4 linked regions of the Homo sapiens genome follow. The protein of the gene in region 1 interacts with the protein of each later gene in a pairwise test. Each region holds a gene or a part of one and is shown in the gene's direction. Other genes may lie near its edges. The genes, in order: HOMER1, NUP54, RASAL3 and BRME1.

Region 1 (7,035 bases):
ATATATTTCAACAGTCAAGCGTTTTAAAATAATTGATGTGGTGTTATAACTACCTAGACTACTCATATAAAAAGTACTTCTGCCAATCGGTATTAACTTGTAAATTACGCCAAAACAAGGCAACTAGTTCAGGAATACCAACCTTTTCTTAAACAGGTTTGTTGTAGATTCTCCATGTTCCAGGTCTACAGTGTTTTATAGATGAAATCCCTGTTACCGTATATGCATGCCTGATAAGTTTAAAATGGGAGTCAAGAAACTCCATATGATTCTACTACCCAAAACTAGTGTGAAATTCCATCCCTGATGTGAGAGCTAAAATATTTATATTTGAGGTTTTTATTAGTGTTGAAAGTTTTATTAAAATTAGTGTTATAAAATTTACTACTCATTAATTGATTTGATCTGAGGTTAGCCTTGCACTTATTTCATAGTGAATACCTTTACTTTTCATTTAGTGCATTGACTAAGCTTGCACAGATTGGCAAGCACCAGGTTTTGCTGGTAAGTGAAAGGATGGGTGTAATAACTGGAAAATACTTGTTGGAGAAAACTTGAATCAATGAAAGGAAAAAATGCAATCTGATAGATTCTGAATATAGAAAAAATTGGACAAAAATTCATAGAAAAAAATGAGAATCTGATTGAGAAGAAGAGCTCATCACAGAAAAGCCAGCTTGATTAGAACAGGAAATATAATCCATGTACTTCAATTCAGGAAGATGGGGCAAATTGATAGGTTACATAATGTGGGTTTAAAAAATTATGTTTATTAGTTTGCTTGAGTTGTCCTAAAAAATGCTGTAGACTGCATGGCTTAAACTATAGAAATCTATTTTCTCATAGTTCTGGAGGCTAGAAGTCTGAGATCAAGGCGTCTGCAGGGTCATTTCTTCCGAGGCCTCTCTCCTCGTCTTGTAGATGGCTGTCGTCTCTTTTTATGTTCGTGTGTCTGTGTCCTAATCCCCTCCTCTTGTAAGGACACCATTTATACTGGATTATGGCCCACCCTAATGACCACATTAAACCTTAATTACCTCTTTAAAGACTCTGTCTCCAAATACAGTCATACTGTGAGATCCTGGGAGTTAGAACTTCAATATATGAGTTTTGGAGGGACACAGTTCAGCCTCACGCACAGAATCGAAGAGGCAATCAGGACCGGGCACGATGGCTCATGCCTGTAATCCCAGCACTTTGGAAGGCCGAGGCGGGTGGATCACCTGAGGTCAGGAGTTAGCGACCAGCCTGGCCAACATGGTGAAACCCTATCTCTACTAAAAATATTAAAAAAAAAAAAAAATAGCTGGGCGTGGTGGTGGGCACCTCCCAGCTACTTGGGAGGCTGAGGCAGGAGAATCGCTTGAACCTGGAAGGCGGAGGTTGCATGAGCTGAGATTGTGCCATTGCACTCCAGCCTGGGCAACAAGAGCGAAACTCCATCTCAAAGAAAGAAAGAAAGAAAGAAAAGGCAGAATGTCAAGATCCTCTTGAACAGTACTGTTCAGTAGAACTTTTTGTCATGATGAAATGTTCTGTTATCTTTGCTGTCCAGGGTAGTAGCCACCAGTCATGTGTGGCTGTTGAGTGCATGAAATGTGTCTCAAATTCAAAGCTGAATTTTTTACTTTAATTTTGAAGTATTACATTTAAATAGCCACATGCTAATATTTGGATAATACAGATCTTGACTGATCTATTTATTTGACATATAAAGAACTGAGAACCAAAGTGCTTGAGTGTTGGGTCCGAGGTTACCCAGATAATTACTGAATACTTGTGATGTAAGCAGTTATAAAATGCTTGATGGATTTTACTGTCTAGTGACTATAAAATAAAACCCACATAAATATAATAGAAAAACACCCTCATTTTAAAATTATTTCTCCTGCTATAAATATGTGGTAATCCATTTTACTTTATAATTGTGTGATTTTGACAAATGGATTTTAGGAGTAAATAATTGTTGTTTCTTCCAGTTAATTTTTAAAGGTGTTTGCTATTGACATGTAACAAGTGTTTAAATTAGTTCACTAAGATGTCAATCGTCAGATTGAAGTTTCCATTTAAATAAAACGCATCTCTATAGGGGAAAAACTGGTAGGTGGTTTAAAGAAAAATCTATAATTCAGTTAGAGCAGGTGAATCCATGCATGCTTTTTTCAGAAGACATGAATCTGAAAAATCATTTCACAAAGGAAGAATAAGAAAAGAGCTTTCCTTTTCAGGATAGAAATGGATTGTTAAGTTAATAGCTTAGCTTGTTGCTTGATTCTATCCTTTCATGTTTTGATGATATTTTCTCACTTAGTAAACTTTAGGAATATTTTTAACTTTTCATTTTAAACTAATTTTAGACTTATAGAAAAATCACAAAAACTGTACAGAGTGCCCGTATACACTTCACACAGCTTCCCTTAATGTTAACATCTTGTGTAACCATAATACAATGATCAAATCCAGGGCAGTAGCATTGATACAATACTACTAACTAACCCTCAGTTTTCACCAATGTTCCCTTTCTGTTCTAGGAACCTACCTAAGATCCCACCTTGCATTTAACTGTTATTTCCTGTTTCCTTCATTTTCTTCACATGTTTGAAGAGTTTCAGTTATTTTACAGATTGTCCCTCAGTTTGGGTTTATATGATATTTTCTCATTGTTTGACTGAAGTTACGCATTTATTGCAAGAATACTACAGACACAATCTTGTGTCATTCTCTGTACATCATATCAGGGGGTTCGTGATGCTAATATGTCATATTTCTGGTGATAAACTTTAGAAATCTTGGTGATGAAAACTATGCTTTTTAAATAAAATATATGCTAAAATTACTATAAAATATCAACCCATCAAATTTACCCTAGAATACAAATGATTTATCAAACCCCCAAAAAATGGTGATTGAAGAAAGCTATAAGCCTCACTAGTTAGTTAATGGGATGAGGTTAGTAGAATTTAACTAATAGAAATAAACTTCAATAATGAGAAAGAGAAACAACCTTTTTCTTTCTAATGAGGCAATTCTTCATTGGAAAGTTAGGAAAGGAATTTTCAAGAGGAGTCTTTCCAACTAAAAGAATTGTCTTGTAGTAGAAAATTGTTTTAGTTGAGGTACTTAACTGTAGTAACTTATCAAGTAGAATATTAAATGAGGAAAAACGGTGATTGCTTTAGTCTTCTTCTATTTATGACACTGGAATTATATCAGAAGTCAAGTCTTTAGAACCAGTTTGTAGGCCTAGCCTTTCCTATGAAATCAGTTTATTGTAGCAAATGTTTGTATTTTTGACATTTTAAGGTCCTGAATAAGATGAAATAAATCAAAAACAATTTCAAAAGAAATACTACATTACATATCCCAAACCTTATGACATTTAAGCATCCTCATATGTTTTCATTAAGGAATAACATTGTACTTTAGGGTTTGACACACGTAAAAAATGTAATACATTGTTAGGTTTTTTTAATAGATGTTTTTCAGGCTATAATGTTTATTCCTTAAAAGAGAATGGGTGGAAACTCTTCTGTAGATAACTGTATCTGTCATAATGAAGGTTGGAAACATTCCACGTTAAGCCTGGTACTTGAGTACTTTTTATATTTCTTCACTTGCCAGGTTTTCTTTACTAGGAATATTTTGGTAAAGTATTTGTGTTTTTTAGTATTTTGAGGTTGTCTTTGAAAACATTCTTAGGGCTGGTCACAGTGGCTCACGCCTGTAATCCCAGTACTTTGGGAGGCTGAGGCAGGTGGATCACCTGAGGTCAGGAGTTCAAGACCAGCCTGGCCAACATGGGAAACCCCGTCTGTACTAAAAAAATACAAAAAAATTAACTGGGCATGGTGGCGTGTGCCTGTAGTCCCAGCTACTCAGGAGGCTGGGGCAGGAGAATCGCTTGAACCCAGGAGGCGGAGGTTGCAGTGAGCCAAGATTGCGCCACTACACTCCAGCCTGGGCAACAGAGCGAGACTCCATCTCAAAAAAAAAAAAAAAGAAAAGAAAACATTCTTAGACTATAAACCCTACAATAGAACTGAGTCTTGCTGTCCCTTCAAGGTAACAGTAGTTGGTGTAATGGATAGAATTTTCTTTTTGTTTTATTTTAGTTCAGCAATCAGCAAACATTGGGAGGCTGAACTGGCTACCCTCAAAGGAAATAATGCCAAACTCACTGCAGCCCTGCTGGAGTCCACTGCCAATGTGAAACAATGGAAACAGCAACTTGCTGCCTATCAAGAGGAAGCAGAACGTCTGCACAAGCGGGTAATTTCAGGGCTGATGTCTATAGGGATTTAGGGCTAACAGGTTTTCTTGATCAGAAGAAATTTGCATGTAGATTCAGCACAGGGATATCTTCTAGTTCTAGGATGTCAGAACATAGATATGGGTTGTATGATATGCATTTGTTTGATTAAGAAAAATATTTTCCATAGTTTAATGAGAATGAAGAATATACGCCTTTTGAAGTCAACAAACCATGTTGATTCCCCATATTATCCATGGGGACTAGCAGTAATGCACAAGTACATAAAAGCACTAATGTATTAGTGCTAGTTGATTAGTACTGACATGGTAGTTAAAGTGTGTGCTGAGAAAAAATTCAGGGAGTAGTTTAATTAGAATTTTAGCTTTGGGTGTTGACGGTGAAGCGGGAATGCTTTTCTCCTGAGTTGTCCTGGGGAGGGGATTCTCCATTTCTGGTTTACAAGACCAGAGTATTCCAGAGTGCGAATTCCAGTTCTGCCGGTTATTATCTGTATGATCTTTGATAAGTTATTTCCTTCTTCCAGCTCAGTATTCTCATCTGTAAAATAGGAATAATAAGTACTCTGTACAATTCCTGTGAAGATTAATTGAATACTTAATTGGCATGTAGTTGCACTGAGTCAAAAGTATGTATTCTGTACAATTCCTATGAAAATTTGTTGAGACACTTAAGTGCCGTGTAATTGCACTGTCTCAATGAGTTGCAGTGAGTCAATGAGCTGCTTTTATTATTTTCTTTTTAAAGAAGGAACAATTTGAAAAATACAAGTAGAAAATTATTAACTTTGGTAATATTAGAGATTTGGTGCAGAAAAAGAAAACCAGAAATTTCAATACCATTAATATCAGAAGCCCAGATAATTACTTGTAAAGTGTTTTAATGCTCTCAGGCCAAGAGTTTGAGATTAGCCCAGGCAACATGGCAAGACCCCATCTCCATTAAAAAAAAAAAAAAAAAAAATCTTTTTTCTTTTTTTTTTTTAATTAACCAAGCATGGGGACACACGCCTGTAGTCCTAGCTACTTGGAATGCTGAGTGGGAAGGATTGCTTGAGCCCAGGAATTGGAGGCTGCAGTGAATTATGATGGCTCTACTGCACTCTAGCTTGGGTGACAGAGCAAGACTCTGTCTCTAAAAAACAAAAAAAAAAAAGAAGAAGTTTTTTTTTTTTTAATTCAAGGCATAGAAGTGCTTCACCCAACAGATGCCTTTAATTTCTCCTTTTAAAAAAAATTCCAAGCTGGGCACATTGGCTCACACCTATAATCCCAGCACTTTGGGAGGCTAAGGAGGATGGATTGCTTGAGCCCAGGAGTTCAAGACCAGCCTGGGCAACATGGTGAAACCCCATCTCCACTAAAAATACAAAAATTAGATGGGTGTGATGGCATGTCCCTATAGTTCCAACTACTTAGGAGGCTGAGGTGGGAACATCACTTGAGCCCAGGAGGCAGAGGCTAAAGTGAGCTGAGATCACGCCACTGCATACTCCAGCTTGGGTAACAGAGCAAGGCCTTATCTCAGAAAAAAAAAAAAAAAGAAAGAAAAGGAAATGCAGTTGAGACAGAGTGGAAATGTTAGAAACTTGAGTAAATGTTATTCTATCCTGTGTGTAAAAATTAACTTAAGAGAGGTGGGGGAAAGGAGAGTTGTTTAATGGGTATAGACTTACAGTTTTGCAAGTTAAAAAAGTTCTGGAGATCTGTTTCACAGCAATGTGAATATAAATACTTAACACTATTGAACTATACACTTAAAATGACTAAGATGATAAATTTTATGATATATGTTTTTTACCACAAAAAAAAATTTATGACAATTGTCATAGCCAGAAAATATTAAGGAGCTATCATGTCTCCTTATTGTGTAATCTCTGCCCTTAAGAAATTTTCTCTTTAAATAGTCAATTGAATATTAAAGAACTTAAGAAACATAATATATTTATTTACTCACATATTTTCAGTTTCCATTGTGCTTCTTTCCTGTAGATCTGAATTTCTATCAGGTATTGTTTCCCTTCAGCCTGAATAACCTCCTTGAGCAGTTTTTGTACTCCAAGTGTACTGCCAACAAATTATCTCCACTTTTATTTAGATAAATTTTGTCTTGATTATAAGTTACATTTTACTGTTTTTTCAGAAAAATGACTAGTCATTTTTAATTTTGTATTGGACATTGCAAATGAGATGTTGTAGAGACCACAGATTTTGTTATTTTTGAATAATGTTGAGTTTTTGTTTCAACAGGCAGTTATTTGGAGATTATCTTGAATTTGTGGAGTTGTGTACTTATGCTTTGTTAGAATTCATGTATTTCAATTTTGCTGTAACCCTAGGGTAAATCACATTGTCCTAGGAAATCTTTATCTCTAAGACATAACCCTTTCCAAAGTTTCACTGCAAAGCTTGAGGTATTTACCAAGGCCCTCTAATTTAGCAGGGACTAGCAGAACTTCAAACTGTCATCTCTGTTGAGCACCATCGCAGTTTAGTTCTTTCAGCCTTCCAGCTCTTTTCCTACTCCTAGTTGTGCCAGGTGTTCTGCAGAGTCCTAAAATTCTCAGGCTTCTCAGAGAAATAAGACTATGGATTTCTGCTTGTTCAGTCAAGCAATGCAGCCAGACTGCAGAGTACCTTCAGGCAAAAAGATGTGGAAATCACCCAAAGTGACTGCTTTCTTGCAGTCTTTTGCCCAATTTGGTTACTCACCAGGTCCTTCAAACAGTTGACTTTTACATTTTGCCCACAATTTGCAATTGTTAC
Region 2 (7,035 bases), on another chromosome or scaffold:
TTGGCATGCTGTTTTCAAAACATTTGAATTCCTTGCAAAAAAAAGTAGTTGAATTAGGGTTTAAAAACCAATAAATTTTTTTTTTTTTTTTTTTTTTGAGACGGAGTCTCACCCTGTCGCCCGGGCTGGAGTACAGTGGCAAGATCTTGGCTCACTGCAAGCTCCACCTCCCGGGTCCACGCCATTCTCCTGCCTCAGCCTCCTGAGTAGCTGGGACTACAGGCGCCCGCCGCCACGCCCGGCTAATTTTTTGTATTTTTAGTAGACACGGGGTTTCACCGTGTTAGCCAGGATGGTCTCGATCTCCTGACCTTGTGATCCACCCCCCTCGGCCTCCCAAAGTGCTGGGATTACAGGCATGAGCCACCGCGCCCAGCCAAAAACCAATAAATTTTACATAGAAAATCCAGATTTCCTGTTTCTCTTGGGGTAAAAAATGGGAATATGTGACACTGCTAAACTACCTTTCTTGTATCTGCTGGAATTTAGGAACTGCTGATCTAAAAAACTATTCATTTTAAACAGTTCCACCTATCAGTAAACACATAGTCTACTTTACTCTTTACTGTTATCAGTCTAAATCTTCTAGGCATATGAATTTGCAACACCTCCTCTAAAAGTACATACATAGTCATTTTAGAATTATGGCAATAGGCTTAATGTGTTTTCTCAGCTGTAACTGTTAACCACCCCTTTAATTGAAGGGTATATATTACATTGTGATATTTCTATTTTAAATGCTTAGTTCATTTCTTGTAACATTTTGACTTCTTGATTGGTAGTATAGTTTTTTAAAAAATTGATCTTGAAAGTAGGGAAAGGAAAAATTAGATCAATATATTTTGATTTTATATGTAGCAATTATAAAATAATTTTAAAAAGAAGTTGCCTTTATATATACAAAAGATTCTTCCTTTCTATTTTTGTTCTTTTTTAATTAGGTGGGTTTGGAGGATTTGGGACAACATCTACAACTGCAGGTTCTGCATTCAGCTTTTCTGCCCCAACTAACACAGGCACTACTGGTAAGAGGCCATCTTAAGTCATTCATAGAAGTAAATGAAGTAGAGGTCAGATTTTTTTTTTTTTTTAACTTACGAAGTTCCAATTTTTCATTCAAAGGACTCTTTGGTGGTACTCAGAACAAAGGTTTTGGATTTGGTACTGGTTTTGGCACAACAACGGGAACTAGTACTGGTTTAGGTACTGGTTTGGGAACTGGACTGGGATTTGGAGGATTTAATACACAGCAGCAGCAGCAAACTAGTAAGTATGAGGTTTTCAGCTTCAAATACAAAACCGTGATGATACTAGCTGACATTATTGAGTGCATTCAGAATACTTTAGTGGACTTTTTATAAGAATTATTAATATATTCCAAAGGATTAGGAATGTTACTTTTCATGTTTAAATATGATAGCAACTGGGGAGAACACTGATTGGCACAGTTAGGATTATAAGGTCCCTGTGTTTAGGATCATTCCATTTAAATTTTTGTTGTTAAAAATAACAAATAGAGAAACTGCACAAAAGTACAGCTTAATGAATTATATATAAGTTTACAAAGGTTAACACCCTTGTAATCACTGCCCATGTCAGGAGATGGTTCCTGGCCAGCCAGTTCAGAAGCCTACCACATTTCCCTACCAATTGCTTCCCCATCAGAGGACCTGCAGTCTTGGCTTTTATGGTGATCATTTTCTTACTTTATATTTTGTCATTCAAGTATGTAAACAGTATTTGGTTTTGCCTGTCTTAAATCTCCATAGGCTCCTCTTTTATCTCTCTTTTTTATTTATTTTTTATTTTTTGAGACGGAGTCTTGCTCTGTCGCCCAGGCTGGAGTGCAGTGGCACGACCTCGGCTCACTGCAACCTCCGCCTCCCAGGTTCAAGCGATACTTCTGCCTCAGCCTCCTGAGTAGCTGGGACTACAGGCGCACACCACCACGCCCAGCTAATTTTTGTATTTTTAGTAGAGACGGAGTTTTACCATATTGGCCAGGCTGGTCTGGAACTCCTGACCTCGTGATCTGCCTGCCTCGGCCTCCCAAAGTGCTGGGATTACAGGTGTGCGCCACCGCGCCTGGCCTCTCTTTTTTATTTTTTAATTTGTTGAAGAAAACAGATCATTTATCCTATAGAGTTTTTTAGTCAAGACTTTTCTGATTGCACGCCTATGGTATAGTTTAACACATTCCTTTGTTCTCTGTATTTCTTGATGATTGGGTTAGATCTGGGGCGTACATATATATATTTTGTTGTTTTGTTGTTTGTTTGCAAGACTATTTTATAGGCCTATTTTTTATCAGAAGACATATAATATCTTTTTTTTTTGAGTGATCAGCCATTGAGCCATTGGTGATCATTACCTAGATCCATTAATTCATTAGGGGTTACAAATAGTGCCATTCCACCTGGATTCATTTATTTGTTGAAATACTTCTGTGAGGAGAAACTTGACTTCATCTGTTTGGTTGATTCTTTCTCTTTATTACTGGTTTTCAGAATAAAGAGTTGGTTATCTAGCATTCTCCAAAGATGACCAATTTTTTTTTAATGTCAGAAACTGCAGCCTTTAAACTAGTTACTATTTTTTAATCCATTGCAGTTACCATTCTTATTGATGCTTAAATTGTTACATCTTTGGCCAGTGCAAGCCTTTTCAAGTTGGCTCCCAAGTCCCTTTGAGACAGTCTGGTTATTAGTCTTTGATGGCTTCCTTACTAACCATCCTTACTAGGTGGTATGGCAGTAGGTTCCAGGGGTTGTTCTGTATGGATTAACTTATTCTCACAAGAACCCTGTGAAATAATACTTTTGTTATCCCCATTTTATGGGTGAAGAGAGGAACCTGAGAGATTGTGACTTACCTGTATACCTCTCTAGAAGAAGTACAGGGATGCAAATTCAACTACTCATTCTAGTGCTCTTTTCACTTTTCCAATCTGATGCCTCTTAAAATTACTTCTGTTTCATTTTTTTAAGTAACTTGATTGACTAGCTAAAATTCATCCTACTCAGTCACTGAAGATTAGTTATTAACTTATTAAACATGAATTTCAAGGATTGCCTAACAGTAGGATGAAGATAATAGAATAGTATTCTCAGAATTATTCTTTCAAGTATTCCAGTCATTCGTCTTTTCTACAATCCTGCAAAAATACAAAATTTGATGAAATATTTAAGTAGTTAAGGAAAGAACAGCAAAAGTGAAGTGTTTCCTTTGTTTCTTGAAATAAAGTCTCTCCAACTATGAGTAACTGTAGTTACATTTGGTTTTTTTAGGAAAATGGGAATTTGAATCTGGTGCTATTTTAAAATTGAAAGGGGCTCATTTTGTTATGTAATATCCATTTATTGTATATATCGTATGTCAGGCATTGGGTGTACAAGGTTGAAGACCACAATCCTTGCTCATAGTCAAGGAGATTCTAGGGTATCCACGCAGAGGAAATAACATGGCATGGTTTATGGCAGAGTATAATGCCTTTGGGACCAGTATAACTAGATCAGTGCAGTTTTTTTAATGCATAAATGACCTCAGGGTCAGTAGTGAGAGTTGGAGAGATAGATATGAATTGGATTATTAGCGTGCCTTATATGTTTTACTAAGGAGCTGTCCTTTAAGCAATTCTAAACTGTTGTAGGATTAAGTAGACAGGAAAATAATCAGATTTTTAGAAGTATCTCTTAGAGAAATACAAAGATAGATTATAGGTGGGTTGGAATGGAGGCAGAGATCTGGTGAAGCTGTTGCCAAAATCTGAGCAAGATATAGTGAAGACCTGAATTAAGGCAGTGACAGTTAAGAATGGAGAGAAAAAACAGGATGTGAATTTGAGAGAGATTTAACTTGTAGAATCAATAAAAGCGAATGACTGGATAAAGGTATCTTGGGCTTCTGGGTGGCGTAACTGAAGGATCCCTTGCTCTTCACTAAGATCCAGAATACTAAAGCAAGAGCAGATGTTTGTGGGTAGATAATGAGTTTGAGGTGTCCCTTGGGTAGTTGTATATATTTATGAAAGCCATCAGAACGTAAGTAGTATTTAAAGTGGTAGATATGGATGATGTAATTTAGGAGACCTGATTCCAGAGTAAGAGGAGAGTACTAGAACAAAACTCTTAGAAACACTAACACTTAAATGCTGCCATCTCCTATCCCCAAGCCAAGTAGGATTTTGACCATAAATTAGCGAGCAGCATTGTTAGGACCACTGCTTGTCCTATCTCAGTATAGAGATGCCCGTCCATGTATTCCTCATACTTATTAGCTCCCTTTTACTAATCACAGCTATTCCTATCTCAGTTGGCAATACCTGTGAATCAAGGGGAAAAGTCACATTTGACTTTGTGACAACCGCCAGAAGTCCTTTCCAAGCCAAAGCATGGATTATCGAGGATCCTTCAGAAGACTGTTGGATCTTTCGACAACTGATACTTTCTGCTCTGTTAGCTCTTTCTGTCTTCACTACTCTAACTAGCTTAGATTCCATGGCCTTCCATTTCTATATCTCTTGCCAATATGCTAAACTTCCTTGTTTTTGTGTCACATTTGCCTGAAAAAACCCCAAGCCTTTGTAAGCCCAACTGTCTGTGTAGATATTGCTTGAGAAAGATCACACATTATGGAAGAGGGGATAATACCTCTCTAAATTCTTGATCACCAACCTCAGGTCTCAATGTTGCCTGGTAATCCTGTGAAATTTCTACTTTCAACTTATTCTCCTGCTTTCTATAGCAGTAATTTTAAACCTTTATTCTCTTCAAATCTCAAATTTATCTGTTCTTACTTTTAGCAGATGGCCTTGACTGCTACTTCCAAGACAAAAAAGGGCTGAGCGCAGTGGCTCACATCTGTAATCCCAGCACTTTGGGAGGCTGAGGTGGGCGGATCACCTGAGGTCAGAGACCAGCCTGGCCAACATGGTGAAACCCATCTCCACTAAAAATACAAAAATTAGATGGGCGTGGTAGTGCACACCTGTAGTCCCAGTTACTCGGGAGGCTGAGACATGAGAATTGCTTGAACCCCATAGGCAGAGGTTGCAGTGAGCTGAGATCGCACCACTGGACTCCAGCCTGGGTGACAGAGCAAGACTCTGTCTCAAAAAAAAAAAAAAAAAACCAAAGAGAAAATAAAATCCCTTATTGCAATTCCTTCAACTTCCCTCCACCAAATCTATTTTTTTTCTCCCTCTATCCACCTTTTCCTCTTTTTACCTGACTCAGGATCTTATAACCTCCTGCCTTTTCAGGGCGCATGTGCTGTTGATTATTCTAGCTGTACTCCGTTCCCCAGTCTTCACCTTCTCATCCACATTTAAGTAACTCAAAGTTTATTTTTTCTTGAAACAGTAATAACAACAACAACAAAACTACTTTAATCCCACATTTCACTTCAGCTACCACTCTCCTCCCCTTTACAAACTATTCGCCAATCTGGTTTCTGTTTTCTTTATTTTATCAAATAAGTTAAGGTCATTAATCATCTCAGTAAATCCAGTGAACACTTACTGTTCTTTATGAAAAATGCTAACAAAGAAAAAAAGAAGTGATGTGAACCCTACCAGCTGGAGTCATCAAAAGTCAGAACTTGTTATTGTCCATCTCCTTTTTCCTTTTTTTAAATCACTGATGTATTTGAGAGCAAATCCCAAGCGTGTCATTTCATGCTTACTTTACTATACTTCTCTCTTTAAAAATGTGTACCTCATTCCAACCCACAATAATTCCTTGGTACTATCTAATACCCCATCTATAACCAGAGTTCCCTATTTGTCTCAAAAGCGTTTTCTTATTTGGTTTGTTTGAATCATGATCCAAACAAGGACCACACATTCATTTTCTTGTCATGTCCCTTAAGTTCTTTTTAGTGTAGAGAATTCCCCATTCTGTTTTTTCCCTCATGAATTTTCCAGTTGTCTTGTTAAATGCCCCCCATTCTGTATTTTTCTTCTGCTTCCTTGTAATATTATTTAACTTTATCTCTCATAATTGTGGTAAATAAAGTTTGCTTTAGGGACTTGACGTTTGCTTTTTTGGTAAGAACATTTTGCAAGTGGTGCTGTGTGCTTCATATCACGTCACGTTGAGAGGCTATCTCACTTTTGGTGATGCTAAGATTGATCAGTAGGTTCAGATGGTGACAGCGTATCTTTATCTTACTACTTTAACCTAATGGTTTCATTCCTTGATGATCATTGCCTCAATCAGTTATCTTATTAGGAGTTGCAAAATGGTGATTTTCTAATTTCCTCCCTATCACACTGAAATTTCTTCTGTAAAAGGAACTTTTTCTTCATCCTCCAAGACTGCTTGATCACCCTGATGTACAGTTTGTATAGTAAAGGCAAGATAATTTTTTTTCTTTTTAATGGACAATTTTTGTAAAAAGGAGTTGGCGGTCTCATTATTTCTAATGGTATCCAAGGAGTTAGGATTTAAAAAAAATTTGATCTTTACTTTATAAAATTACCATTTTGAATGCATGGGCTTTAATAAATATGTTTCAGTTGTTGCATTTGGCCAGTGGGAGACCTTAACTTCTGTGACACTCCAGTCTAGTTTTTTCCTACCTCATTGTTAGTCCTCCTTATTGCTTTTGTCCACTCATCTTCCTCTCTCTGTCTCTACAGAGATGTTACACATACTGTTGGCCTTTACCTCTACCCCATGGCTTAGCTGACTCCTTCCTTTAGGCCCTAACTGAAGTGCTAATGGAACTGTCTTCTCTTGACCCCTCTCTCAGGCTTGATCAGCTCCCTTATTTAGTACTCCCAGAACCTCTGTACTTCTCTGAAGGACTTATCACAATTGTTAATATTTGTTTGATGTGTTCAGTTTGTTTAATGCACCTTGTCTACCTTGTTTACCACTGTATCTTTAGTATTTGGCTCTGAGCACTTAGTAGGTACTCAGTAAATATTTGTTGTATGAATTAATGGTGAATGAATGAATGAATGTGTTTATAAAAAACCAAGAGAGACTGTGTTGTCAGGAAATTTAAGGGAGAAGGGCTTTCAAGGAGGAT
Region 3 (3,456 bases), on another chromosome or scaffold:
CCTGATCCAGGTTCGGTGAGAAGGAGGCCTACATGGGCTTCATGAATAGCTTCCTGGAGGAACATGGACCAGCCATGCAATGCTTCCTGGACCAGGTAGCCATGGTGGATGTGGATGCTGCCCCCAGTGGTTACCAGGGCAGTGGTGATCTGGCCCTCCAGTTAGCTGTCCTGCATGCCCAGCTCTGTACAATTTTTGCTGAGCTTGACCAGGTATGGCCTGAACCCAGAGTAGGGAGGCAAGAAGGCTTGGGAGACTCTGACCCTGGAGACTTTGCTCAGTCTCTGTCCTGCATGCCTCACCAGACAACCCGAGACACCCTGGAACCACTGCCCACCATCCTGCGAGCCATTGAGGAGGGCCAGCCTGTGCTTGTGTCAGTGCCAATGCGTCTCCCACTGCCCCCGGCCCAGGTCCACTCCAGGTAACCTCAAGTCTGGTCTGGGGTCTGATGGGTGGGAACAGGAAGGAGCAGGGCTCAGACAGGGGTCAGAGGTGAAGTTGGATCATTGTGAGCAGAGGTCAAGCCCAGGGTCAGACGGGAATCACAGGTTATAGAAAGGGTTGGGTCAAAGGTCACAGTGTGTTTGAGGTCGGGGATGAGAGGAGAGGTTAGGGTGGAGAGATGTCAAGGGTCATAGAGAGGACAGTATTATAGTCAGAAGTCAAGGACAGGAGCCAGGCTCAGTGGCTCATGCCTGTAATCCCAGCACTTTGGGAGGCTGAGGCAGGAGGATCACTTGAGGCCAGGAACTTAAGACAAGCCTGGGCAACATAGGGAGACCCCATCTCTACCAAAAAAAAAAAAAATTACCTGGGTATAGTGGCATGTGCTGGTAGTCCTAGATATTTGGGAGGCTGAGGCTGGGGAATAGCTTGAGCTCCAGAATTCAAGGCTGCAGTGAGCTATGATCTAGCCACTGCACTCCAGCCTGGGCGACAGAGCAAGACCTTGTCTCAAAAAAAAAAAAGAAAGGACAAGTTCACGTGGGGGGTGAGGTCACTTCTGGTCAGGTCGGGATGGGGTCGTCTCAGGGGCCAGTGGAGGGTCTAAGATCCTCCATCCCACCCCTAGCCTCTCCGCAGGGGAGAAGCCCGGCTTCCTGGCCCCCCGGGACCTCCCCAAGCACACCCCTCTCATCTCCAAGAGCCAGTCTCTGCGCAGCGTTCGCCGCTCAGAGAGTTGGGCCCGGCCACGGCCGGACGAAGAGCGGCCCCTGCGGCGGCCCCGGCCGGTGCAGCGCACGCAGAGTGTCCCGGTCCGGCGTCCTGCCCGCCGCCGCCAATCTGCGGGGCCCTGGCCGCGACCCAAAGGCTCCCTGAGCATGGGACCAGCGCCCCGCGCCCGGCCTTGGACCCGGGACTCCGCCTCGCTGCCTCGGAAGCCGTCGGTACCCTGGCAGCGCCAAATGGACCAGCCGCAAGACCGAAACCAGGCACTGGGCACGCACCGACCTGTGAACAAGGTAAGGTCAGGCCCAGGTCCGCGCCTGGGGAGTGGGAACAGGGACGCGACTGGGGAAGACTGAAGGGCCAGGCAAGTCTGGGTTCAAGTACCCAGCTCGCTGTGCTGTGTGACCCCAGGCCTAGCCCGACCCTCTCTGAGCTTCAGTCTCCCCAGCTGTACCGCAGGAGGGATGTTCCCCAACTAGGCAGGCCGGTGATGACGCTGAGCGCTTGGGCCTGGGAGGTCAGGGTCTCCGGGGAGACACAGGGGCGGGACAACGGGTCAGATTACAGCTGCTCTCCCACCACAGTTGGCAGAGCTGCAGTGCGAGGTGGCCGCTCTGCGTGAGGAGCAGAAAGTGCTGTCCCGCCTCGTGGAGTCGCTGAGCACCCAAATCCGGGCCTTGACGGAGCAGCAGGAGCAGCTGCGGGGCCAGCTGCAGGATCTGGACTCCAGGCTCCGTGCTGGGTGAGCCCAGCCCTCTCCATTAGCTCCGCCCCCAGGTGGGCCCGATCCAATTAGATCTGACCAGGCCCTCCCCCCCCCCCCCAAACCACGCCTAGCACGGCCAAGCCCCACCCTGGCCCCGCCCCAATAAGTCTGTCCAGGCCCTGCCTCTTGGCAAGCCCCGCCCCCAGGTGGACCCACCCAACGAAGGTCGGCCTAGGACCCTGGCAGATTCTCTCATCCAGGCCCCACCCCTCCATCAGCCCCTCCCAACCTGGCTGGGCCGGGCACTGAGATATCTCAGCCTGGGCACTCCCTCCAGCTCAGTCACGACCCCACCCAGGACTGGCCAAACCCCACCTCCAAGGGATGATTGATAGGTCCTGTCATTCCAACCATTCCCGTCTCTGGTCCGACCCTTCTTCAAGCATATTTAGGCCCCGCCCCTCAGTCTGGACAAGCTCCGCCTCCACTCCAAGCTCCGCCCCCGGAGTCCCTGGCACTCCCACCAGGAGCTGGAAGGGACTTCCTTAGCCTCTGCCCTTCGCCCCAATCCCCCGACCCCCACAGGAGCTCAGAGTTTGATTCAGAGCACAACCTAACAAGCAATGAAGGGCACAGTCTGAAAAACCTGGTGAGATTGCCATCTGAGCCCTGGGGCAGGTCTGGGCGGTGGAGGAGCAAGGGTTGCGGTGCAGCCCTCTCCTGGTTTCTGAACCCCATCACCACTGCCTCCCCAGGAGCACCGCCTAAATGAGATGGAGAGAACTCAGGCTCAGCTGAGGGATGCTGTCCAGAGCCTGCAGCTTTCTCCAAGGACGCGGGGGTCTTGGAGTCAACCCCAGCCCCTCAAAGCACCCTGCCTCAATGGAGACACCACCTGAGCTGCCCATCCTGCCTCATCACACGTGGTCTGGGAGCAGAGAGATAGCCATCTTAGGGGGGGTGTCTGACTTTGCCTTAGCCCTACTTGGCCTACAGTGGGGAGTGGAGCTGCTGGTCCCAACCACTCTGGCAGTATGAAGTTGCCCAGTAAAATCTTGATTTCAGTGAAATTGGTGGTTTCTTTGCCCACTAAGAATTGCCAATTCTTAGGCATTTGCCCCGCAAGCCCTATTCATCTCTCCCAAATTCTCCCCTAATTAGAAGTCTCATGGAGAGGGCCATGTACACAAGTTCTCACCAGCTGTGTGACCTTAGACCTTCATTCTCTTAAGAGCCCGTTTTCTTATCTGTGAAATGGACGTAAAGTTCCCTACACAGTGAGAGGACCCATAGTTAAAGGCATTCGATAAAAGGTATTCACCATTGTTATAGGCAGCACCTGCTTCTCAATGAAGCATGGATTCCACCCCTGGCAACCTCCCAATCCCACAGTGAGAGCATCTTCCTAGGCCCTCCTCATGTCACGGAGGCCATGGGTCTGGGAGGCGGATAAAGGAAGGGGGTCAGGTGTGGAGATGGTTGGATACTGTGTATGAATGATTGGGTAAATGAGTCATTCAAATCATGGGTGAGTGGATGGGTGAGGGGTAGAGTGGGTGGAGCAAACGGCAGACGGA
Region 4 (7,428 bases), on another chromosome or scaffold:
AGATGGTGAAACTGAGGCCAAAGCACATGATGTGACTCATCAAGTCACATAACCAGTAAGTGGCAGAGCTCGGATTCCAACTCTCAGTCTCGGTCCAGACTTGATCTTTTTTTTTTTTTTTTTTTTTTTGAGACGGAGTCTTGCTCTGTCGCCCAGGCTGTAGCGCAGTGGTGCGATCTCGGCTCACTGCAAGCTCCGCCTCCCTGGTTCACGCCATTCTTCTGCCTCAGCCTCCTGAGTAGCTGGGACTACAGGCGCCCGCCACCACGCCCGGCTAATTTTTTTTTTTTTTTTGTATTTTTAGTAGAGACAGAGTTTCACCGTGTTAGCCGGGATGGTCTCAATCTCCTGACCTCATGATCTGCCTGCCTCGGCCTCCCAAAGTGCTGGGATTACAGGCGTGAGCCACCGTGCCCGGCCTCAGAGTCGATCTTGACTCTCTTACCCAGATCATTGGCTCCAGGAGAACAGGGGTCTTCTCTGTCTTCTTTCCCCTACCTACCCAGTGCCCCCAGTTCTGCGCCCGAACCACTTGCAGGAGATCAGAAAATGTTCTGAGGGTGTGTTAACCATCTCACCTTTGCCTTTGAGCTTCTCCAGGGCTGGGGGCTGGCCCCCGACCAAAGCCAAGAACTCAGCCTCCAGTTCTTCATCGTTAGCCCCGTCCTCAGGGATCATCAGGCCATCTGGGGAGAGGTCAACCAGCAGGCCCAGCTAGGGGAACAGCAAGGGTTCAGTCAGACCTTTGGTTCACCACATGGCTAGAGGCAGCCATGATGGCCAGAGAGTCCCCTTGGGAGGAAGGAAACAAGGTCTCCCAGGGAAAGCCATTTCCCTGGGGAGTGCCAGGAGGCTGGAACAAGCCCAGAACAGGTGTTCCAAGATAGGCCAGGCCCTCTGGCACAGTTCAACCTGGGGCAAAGGGCAAGAGACCCAGCTCTCTGATCTGAATCCACACTTATGATGTGCTGCTGGGCCAAGTTCAGTGGGAAAAGCAGGCCCCTGGCTGGGCGCAGTGGCTCACGCCTGTCATCCCAGCACTTTGGGAGGCCAAGGCAAGAGGATGGCTTGTGTCTGGGAGTTCCAGACCAGCCTGGGCAATACAGTGAGACCCCCAACTCTACAAAAAAAAAAAAAGTTTTTTGTTTTTTGTTTTTTTTTGACACAGAGTCTCGCTCTGTCACCCAGGCTGGAGTGCAGTGGTGCAGTCTCAGCTCACTGCAACCTCCGCCTCCGGGGTTCATGCCATTCTCCTGCCTCAACATCCCGAGTAGCTGGGACTACAGGCGCCCGCCACCACGCCCGGCTAATTTTTTTTTTGTATTTTTAGCAGAGACGGGGTTTCACCTTGTTAGCCAGGATGGTCTCGATCTCCTGACCTCATGATCTGCCCGCCTCGGCCTCCCAAAGTGCTGGGATTACAGGAAAAAAAACTTTTTAAAATTAGCTGGGAGTTGTGCTGTGTGCCTGTGGTCCCAGCTACTCGGGAGGCTGAGGCAGGAGGATCACTTGAGCCTGGGGAGATCAAGGCTGCAGTGAGCCATGACTGTGCTACGGCACTCCGCCTGGGCAACAGAGTAAAGCCCTGTTGAAAGGAAAGAAAGAAAGAGAGATGGAGCCGGGGAGGGAGAGAGGGAGGGAGGAAGGAGGGAAGGAAGGAAAAAAAGAAGGAAGCGAGGGAGGGAGGGAAGGAGGGAAGGAAGCAGGCTCCACACTTTGCCCAAAGCAAAGCTACTCTGTACACTTGGGCTTTTCTTTCCAGCATCCTCAGCAGAGGGGCTGTGTGGGAAGGTTGGGCTTCAAGAGCATGATGGCTGCATGCGGTGGCTCACGCCTGTAATCCAGGAGTTCGAGACCAGCCTAGCCAACATGGTGAAACCCCGTCTCTACTAAAAATACAAAAATTAGCTGGGAGTGCTGGCGGTGTCTGCAATCCCAGCTACTCGGGAGGCTGAGGCAGGAGAATTGCTTGAACCTGGGAGGTGGAGGTTGCAGTGAGCTGAGATTGCGCCACCAAACTCCAGCCTGGGCAACAGAGCAAGACTCTGTCTCCAAAAAAAAAAGAAGAGCAATTAGAAGCCCTGACGACAGGGCCAGGTGCAGTGGCTCACGCTTGTAATCCCAGCACTTTGGGAGACCAAGGTGGGGGGATCACCTGAGGTCAGCAGTTCGAGACTAGCCTGGCCAACATGGTGAAATCCCATCACTACTAAAAATACAAAAATTAGGCCGGGCACGGTGGCTCACGCCTGTAACCCCAGCACTTTGGGAGGCCGAGGCAGGCGGGTCACCTGAGATGGGGAGTTCGAGACAGACCAGCCTGACCAACAGGGAGAAACCCCGTCTCTACTAAAAAATACAAAATTAACCAGGCATGGTGGCGCATGCCTGTAATCCCAGCTACTCGGGAGGCTGAGGCAGGAGAATCGCTTGAACCCGGGAAGCGGAGGTTGCAGTGGGCCGAGATTGCGCCACTGCACTCCAGCCTGGGGCGAGAGAGCAAGACTCTGTCTCAAAAACAAACAAACAAAAAAAGAACCCCTAACCACAATGCAGGTTTGCCATGCAGACCCGTCTTCCTATCTTGGCTAATGACCAATCATGATGTGATAACATCGTGTTTAACCATATGAAATTGCCTTTCCTGTAGGTAAAAAATGGCCAAATATTGGCAATTATGTATGGTTCCACCAACTAGTAATAATGATAATAGTAACATTTATTGAGTGCTATGTTCTAGCACTTTCCATAAACTATCTCAATGACTCTCTACAACTGTCCTGTAATGTAGGGTCTCTTGGAGGTCTCCATTTTTAATTTTTTATTTATTTATTTATTTTCAGAAGGAATTTATTTATTTATTTTGAGAAGGAGCCTTGCTCTGTCACCCAGTCTGGAATGCAGTGGCGCGATCTCAGCTCACTGCAACCTCCGCCTCTCGGTTCAAGCGATTCTCCCACCTCAGCCTCCCGAGTAGCTGGGATTACAGGTGCCCGCCACCATGCCCAGCTAATTTTTGTATTTTTAGTAGAGATGGGGTTTCGCCATGGCCTCCCAAAGTGCTGGGATTACAGGTGTGAGACACCACCCCGGACTTCCATTTTTAATTTTTTATCTTTATTTTAGAGAAAGAGTCTTGTTCTGTCACCCAGGCTGGAGCAGAAGTAGCGCAATCATAGCTCACTGCGGTCTTGAACTCCTGGGCTCAAGCAATCCTCCCTTCTTAGCCTCCCAAGTAGTAGTACTACAGGCACATGCCACCATGCCCAGTTAGTCTTTTTTTGTCGAGACGGGGGTCTTGCTTTTGCCCAGGCTGGTCTCAAACTCTGGCCTCAAATGACTCTCCCACCTCTGCCTCCGCCTCCATCTCCTGAAGTGCTGGGATTATAGAGATCTCCATTTTACAGATGAGAAAGCTGAGGCTCAGAGCTGTAAAGTCAAGTGTCCGATGTACAGAGGCCAGGAGGGAACTTCAGGTCAGCCAGACTCTAATATCTGAACACCAAGCTATGTCCTGGGCTCCTTCCATCAAAACTGAGAAAAATCAAACTATCTGGTGCCTGGGGCAAAGAAGTCGGGAGAGTGAGAAGGGGTCCAGCCACAGTGCCATAAGCTTATGGCTGCAGCCCTGGATTTGTGCTTAGCCCTGGCCAAGCTGTTAATCCCTATGACCTTGGGCAGATGTCTTCACGTCTCTGAGTCTCAAAGTCCTCATCTGTACAATGGAATAAAAAGAGTCTGACATGGCCCGACTGATGCAAGGGTTTGATGTGTCAAGTCCGAGGACTGCCCCTCCTCGACTGGAGCAGCTGTGGCAACAGGTGGCCCCGAACCCGGGGCAGGGCCCCAGGAGCTGGGGAGCCAAGGCCAGTAGGCCACACTTGGGTGGTGTTGGAGCCTCACCTGGGGGGAGGCGGGGACCGGGGCTTACCTGTGGGGCGGAGATCGGGCTTCCCTGGGGGGTGGGGCCCTTCCCTGAGCGAGTGACGGGGGTGGGGAGGGATCCCCAGGTCGGGCCGTGGGGCGCAAACTCACCTGGCGGGCGGCCGCGGCGCCTCTGCCCGGGGGTCCCGGGGGTCCTTTCCTCTTGTGCATCTTCAAGGCTGGATGCCCGGACCACCTGCCCCCAAGCCCGGCCTTGCCCTGCCTCCTTCCCCGGGCTCTGTCGCCGCGCACTCGCCCTTCCTGAGTCCTGCACTCCTCGTCGGCGCCCCGCGGCCGTCGATCCCGAGCCCTCGCTTCCCTGCTTGGCCGTCCCACTTCCGCCTCGGGCCTCGGGCGCCGCCGCACCGGAGCGCGGCCACTGGGCTCGCCGGGTCTGCCGAGCCGAAACTACAACTCCCGGCAGGTAGTGCGTGGGCGCGCAGGCGCCTGGCTGGGGCGGTGCTGACTGTCGCGGGCTGCGAGGGCGGTGTTTGCGTCGCTCATGCGCGGGGCGGGACCTCGCGGGGCGCGGGAAAGAGGCAGAGCGCGCGCAGGTGTGAGGGGCGGCGACATCTGTGGGGTTCAGAGCGTCTGTCAGTCACCGACGGGCTCCGGCTTCACGTGGGCTCTCGGCCTGTGGAGTCCTCACTTCTCGGTGGTCGGCGTAGTGTCAGTGTGGGGCTTGTCACCGGGAGCGGGGTCTACAGCGCCCACCCTCAGGCCTTTCCATCTTTCACCTCCGGACTCGAGGCCTCCAGCGTTCTGTGAGGGCCAATTTGGCCATTTATTTTTTCCAAAAAGAGTAACGCGGATAATTCAAGCGACTTATTCCCAACTGATCCAGGCAGAGCTCGTTTCTGATAAGGACAGAGGGTCCTCAACGACTTCTGTGGCCCAGGTCCGTTCTGGTTTGCCTCGCCCCCAAGGCTGGGAGAAACCGGCCTATGGCAGCTCTTTCCCCTCCAAGGACCCAGCTGTCCCCTTTAAAGTGGCACGATCTTGGCTCATTGCAACCTCTGCCTCCTGGCCTTGTACCACAGCCTCCTGAGTAGCTGGGATTACGGGTGTGTGCCACCGCACCTGACTAATTTTTTTTTTTTTTTTTGAGACGGAGTCTCGCTCTGTCGCCCAGGCTGGAGTGCAGTAGAGCGATCTCGGCTCACTGCAACCTCTGCCTCATGGGTTCAAGGAATTCTACTGTCTCAGCCTCCCAAGTAGCTGGGATTACAGGTGTGCGTCACGATGCCCAGGCTAATTTTTGTGTTTTTAATAGAGAGGGGGTTTCACCATATTGGCCAGGCTGGTCTCCAGAGGCCCCTGGAGAGTCCTCAAGTGTCCTTGGAAGGGCCCCCAGATACCCCAGTCTGGAGGGAGGGGCTTCACACAGGCTGTTTCATCCTAGGGACCAGAGTCTGGGTCCCCGGGGCTATCTATAAGGACCCCCCAGGGCCCATTTGTCTTTCAGGTCCTGGGCATAAGATCTTCAGTTTGGAGGAGGTTTGAATTCCTACCTGGCCATGGCCCAAAGTGGCTGTGACTCTGTGTCCCATCCTGTGTCCCAGTGGGAGCCATCTGACCCCTGGGGCAGCCAAATGGGCTGAGGTGGAGGTAGGGGTAACCTCTGCTCTCAGCCAAAGCCACTGGATATAAACAGAGACAGAGACTGCTTATAATGATGAGAGATTTTGCTTGTTTTCAGATTTCTCAAGGGGAAGATAAAATGACTAAGAGGAAGAAGCTGCGGACCTCAGGTACGTTCATTCAAATGGACACTTGTTGATTTCTGCTTCTGCTTGTGGGAAGAATGTGGGCTTGTTTATTGCAGATCTGGCTAACACGACTGCCTTAACCTCCTTAAAAGGAAGCAAGGATTGGCCGGGTGCGGTGGCTCACACCTGTAATCTCAGCACTTTGGGAGGCCGAGGCGGGCAGATCACAAGGTCAGGAGTTCAAGACCAGCCTGACCAACATGGTGAAACCCCGTCTCTACTAAAAATACAAAAATTAGCCAGGTGTTGTGGCACATGCCTGTAGTCCCACCTACTCGGGAGACTGAGGCAGGAGAATCGTTTGAACCTGGGAGTCCGATGTTGCAGTGAGCCAAGATGGTGCCACTGCACTCTAGCCTGGGCAACAGAGCAAGACTCTGTCTCAAAAAAAAGAAAAAGACAAAAAGGATTTAATTCATGCTGGTAAGAAAAATAGAAGGCCGGTGTGGTGGCTCACGCCTGTAATCCTAGCACTTTGGGAGGCCGAGGTGGGCGGATCGCTTGAGTCCAGGAGTTCAAGACCAGCCTGGGCAACATAGCGAGATCCTGTCTCTACAATGTAAAGTAAGGAAATTAGCTGGGCGTGGTGGCAGGCACCTGTAGTCCCAGCTACTCAGGAGGTTGAGGCAGGAAGATTGCTTGAACTGGGAGGTGGAGGTTGCAGTGAATCCAGATCGTACCACTGCACTCCATCCTGACTGATAGATTGAGGCCCTGTCTCAAAAAAAAAAAGAAAGAAAGAAAAATAGAAATAACGGAGAGGGCATACAGGAAAAGTAAAAGTGAAAGTTTTCTGGAGCTTCTGCAAGCCTCTGGTGGGGTCCCACAGCTTAGAGGAGGCCTCCCCGGGCTTCAGGGCAGCGGGACAGCCTCCCTGCGGAACCAGTCCCAGAGATGACCCCTGGAATAATGCTTGATGTACTACAAGGCCACTCGGTATGTGGCTGAGTGTTTTACTCTGGGGCCCAAAACCTGGGTTCATCCCAGTTCTGCTCAGTGTGTGGTGGTGGATGATTTCCTCTGTGCCACAGTTTCCCCTTTTGTAAATTGGGGATAATAAAAGCCACTACCCTTTCCTTTAGAGCAGTGTTTCTCAACTAGGTGAGAGGAAGGGATTTTGACCTCCAGAGACAGCTGGCAATGTTTGGAGACTTTATTTTTTTTTTTTTTGGAGACCAAGTCTGACTCTGTCGTCCAGGCTGGAGTGCAGTAGCAAGATCTTGGCTCACTGCAGCCTCCACCTCCTGGGTTCAAGCGATTCTGCAGCCTCAGCCTCCTAAGTAGCTGGGACTACAGATGTGCACCACCACGCCCGCCTAATTTTTGTATTTTTAGTAGGGATAGGGTTTCACAATGTTGGCCAGGCTGGTCTCAAACTCCTGACCTCAGGTGATCTGCCTGCCTCAGCCTCCCAAAGTGCTGGGATTACAGGTGGGAGCCACCGTGCCCGGCCTAGAGACTTTTTTTGGTTTTCATAACTGGGGAAATTATACTGACATCTAGTGGGTGGAGGCCAGGGATGCTGCTCAAATATCCTACCATGCATAGGATGCCCCCCAGCCACAGAGAATGATCCAGCCCCAAATGTCCTCCAAGGTGAAGAATCCTGCCCTTAGAGCTCACATGTGGATTAGTATCTGTAAAGCACCCAGAACTGACCTAAGGTAGTACACAAATGTACACTGCTGTTAACAATTCTTCTTCCAGACTTTTAAGAAAACTTTTATTTTGAAGT

What was found.
Region 2: the proteins of HOMER1 (region 1) and NUP54 interact in binary tests that used the Homo sapiens proteins (3 or more experiments, as listed by UniProt).
Region 3: the proteins of HOMER1 (region 1) and RASAL3 interact in binary tests that used the Homo sapiens proteins (3 or more experiments, as listed by UniProt).
Region 4: the proteins of HOMER1 (region 1) and BRME1 interact in binary tests that used the Homo sapiens proteins (3 or more experiments, as listed by UniProt).

Annotation. Positions count from the first base shown.
Region 1 is NC_000005.10:79,399,133-79,406,167, reverse strand, and holds part of HOMER1 (homer protein homolog 1), read left to right. Parts: intron 1-4,112; coding exon 4,113-4,269; intron 4,270-7,035. UniProt on the Homo sapiens protein: Postsynaptic density scaffolding protein. Binds and cross-links cytoplasmic regions of GRM1, GRM5, ITPR1, DNM3, RYR1, RYR2, SHANK1 and SHANK3.
Region 2 is NC_000004.12:76,138,380-76,145,414, reverse strand, and holds part of NUP54 (nucleoporin p54), read left to right. Parts: intron 1-941; coding exon 942-1,025; intron 1,026-1,122; coding exon 1,123-1,266; intron 1,267-7,035. UniProt on the Homo sapiens protein: Component of the nuclear pore complex, a complex required for the trafficking across the nuclear membrane.
Region 3 is NC_000019.10:15,451,117-15,454,572, reverse strand, and holds the end of RASAL3 (RAS protein activator like-3), read left to right. Parts: intron 1-10; coding exon 11-212; intron 213-305; coding exon 306-424; intron 425-1,075; coding exon 1,076-1,466; intron 1,467-1,757; coding exon 1,758-1,915; intron 1,916-2,322; coding exon of another isoform or gene 2,323-2,428; exon of another isoform or gene 2,429-2,464; coding exon 2,465-2,528; intron 2,529-2,634; coding exon 2,635-2,778; 3' UTR 2,779-2,949; downstream 2,950-3,456. UniProt on the Homo sapiens protein: Functions as a Ras GTPase-activating protein. Plays an important role in the expansion and functions of natural killer T (NKT) cells in the liver by negatively regulating RAS activity and the down-stream ERK signaling pathway.
Region 4 is NC_000019.10:13,903,109-13,910,536, reverse strand, and holds the start of BRME1 (break repair meiotic recombinase recruitment factor 1), read left to right. Parts: upstream 1-4,419; 5' UTR 4,420-4,426; coding exon of another isoform or gene 4,427-4,822; intron 4,823-5,623; coding exon of another isoform or gene 5,624-5,644; coding exon 5,645-5,675; intron 5,676-7,428. Other genes in the region: CC2D1A (coiled-coil and C2 domain-containing protein 1A), read right to left, coding at 579-714, 4,036-4,095. UniProt on the Homo sapiens protein: Meiotic recombination factor component of recombination bridges involved in meiotic double-strand break repair.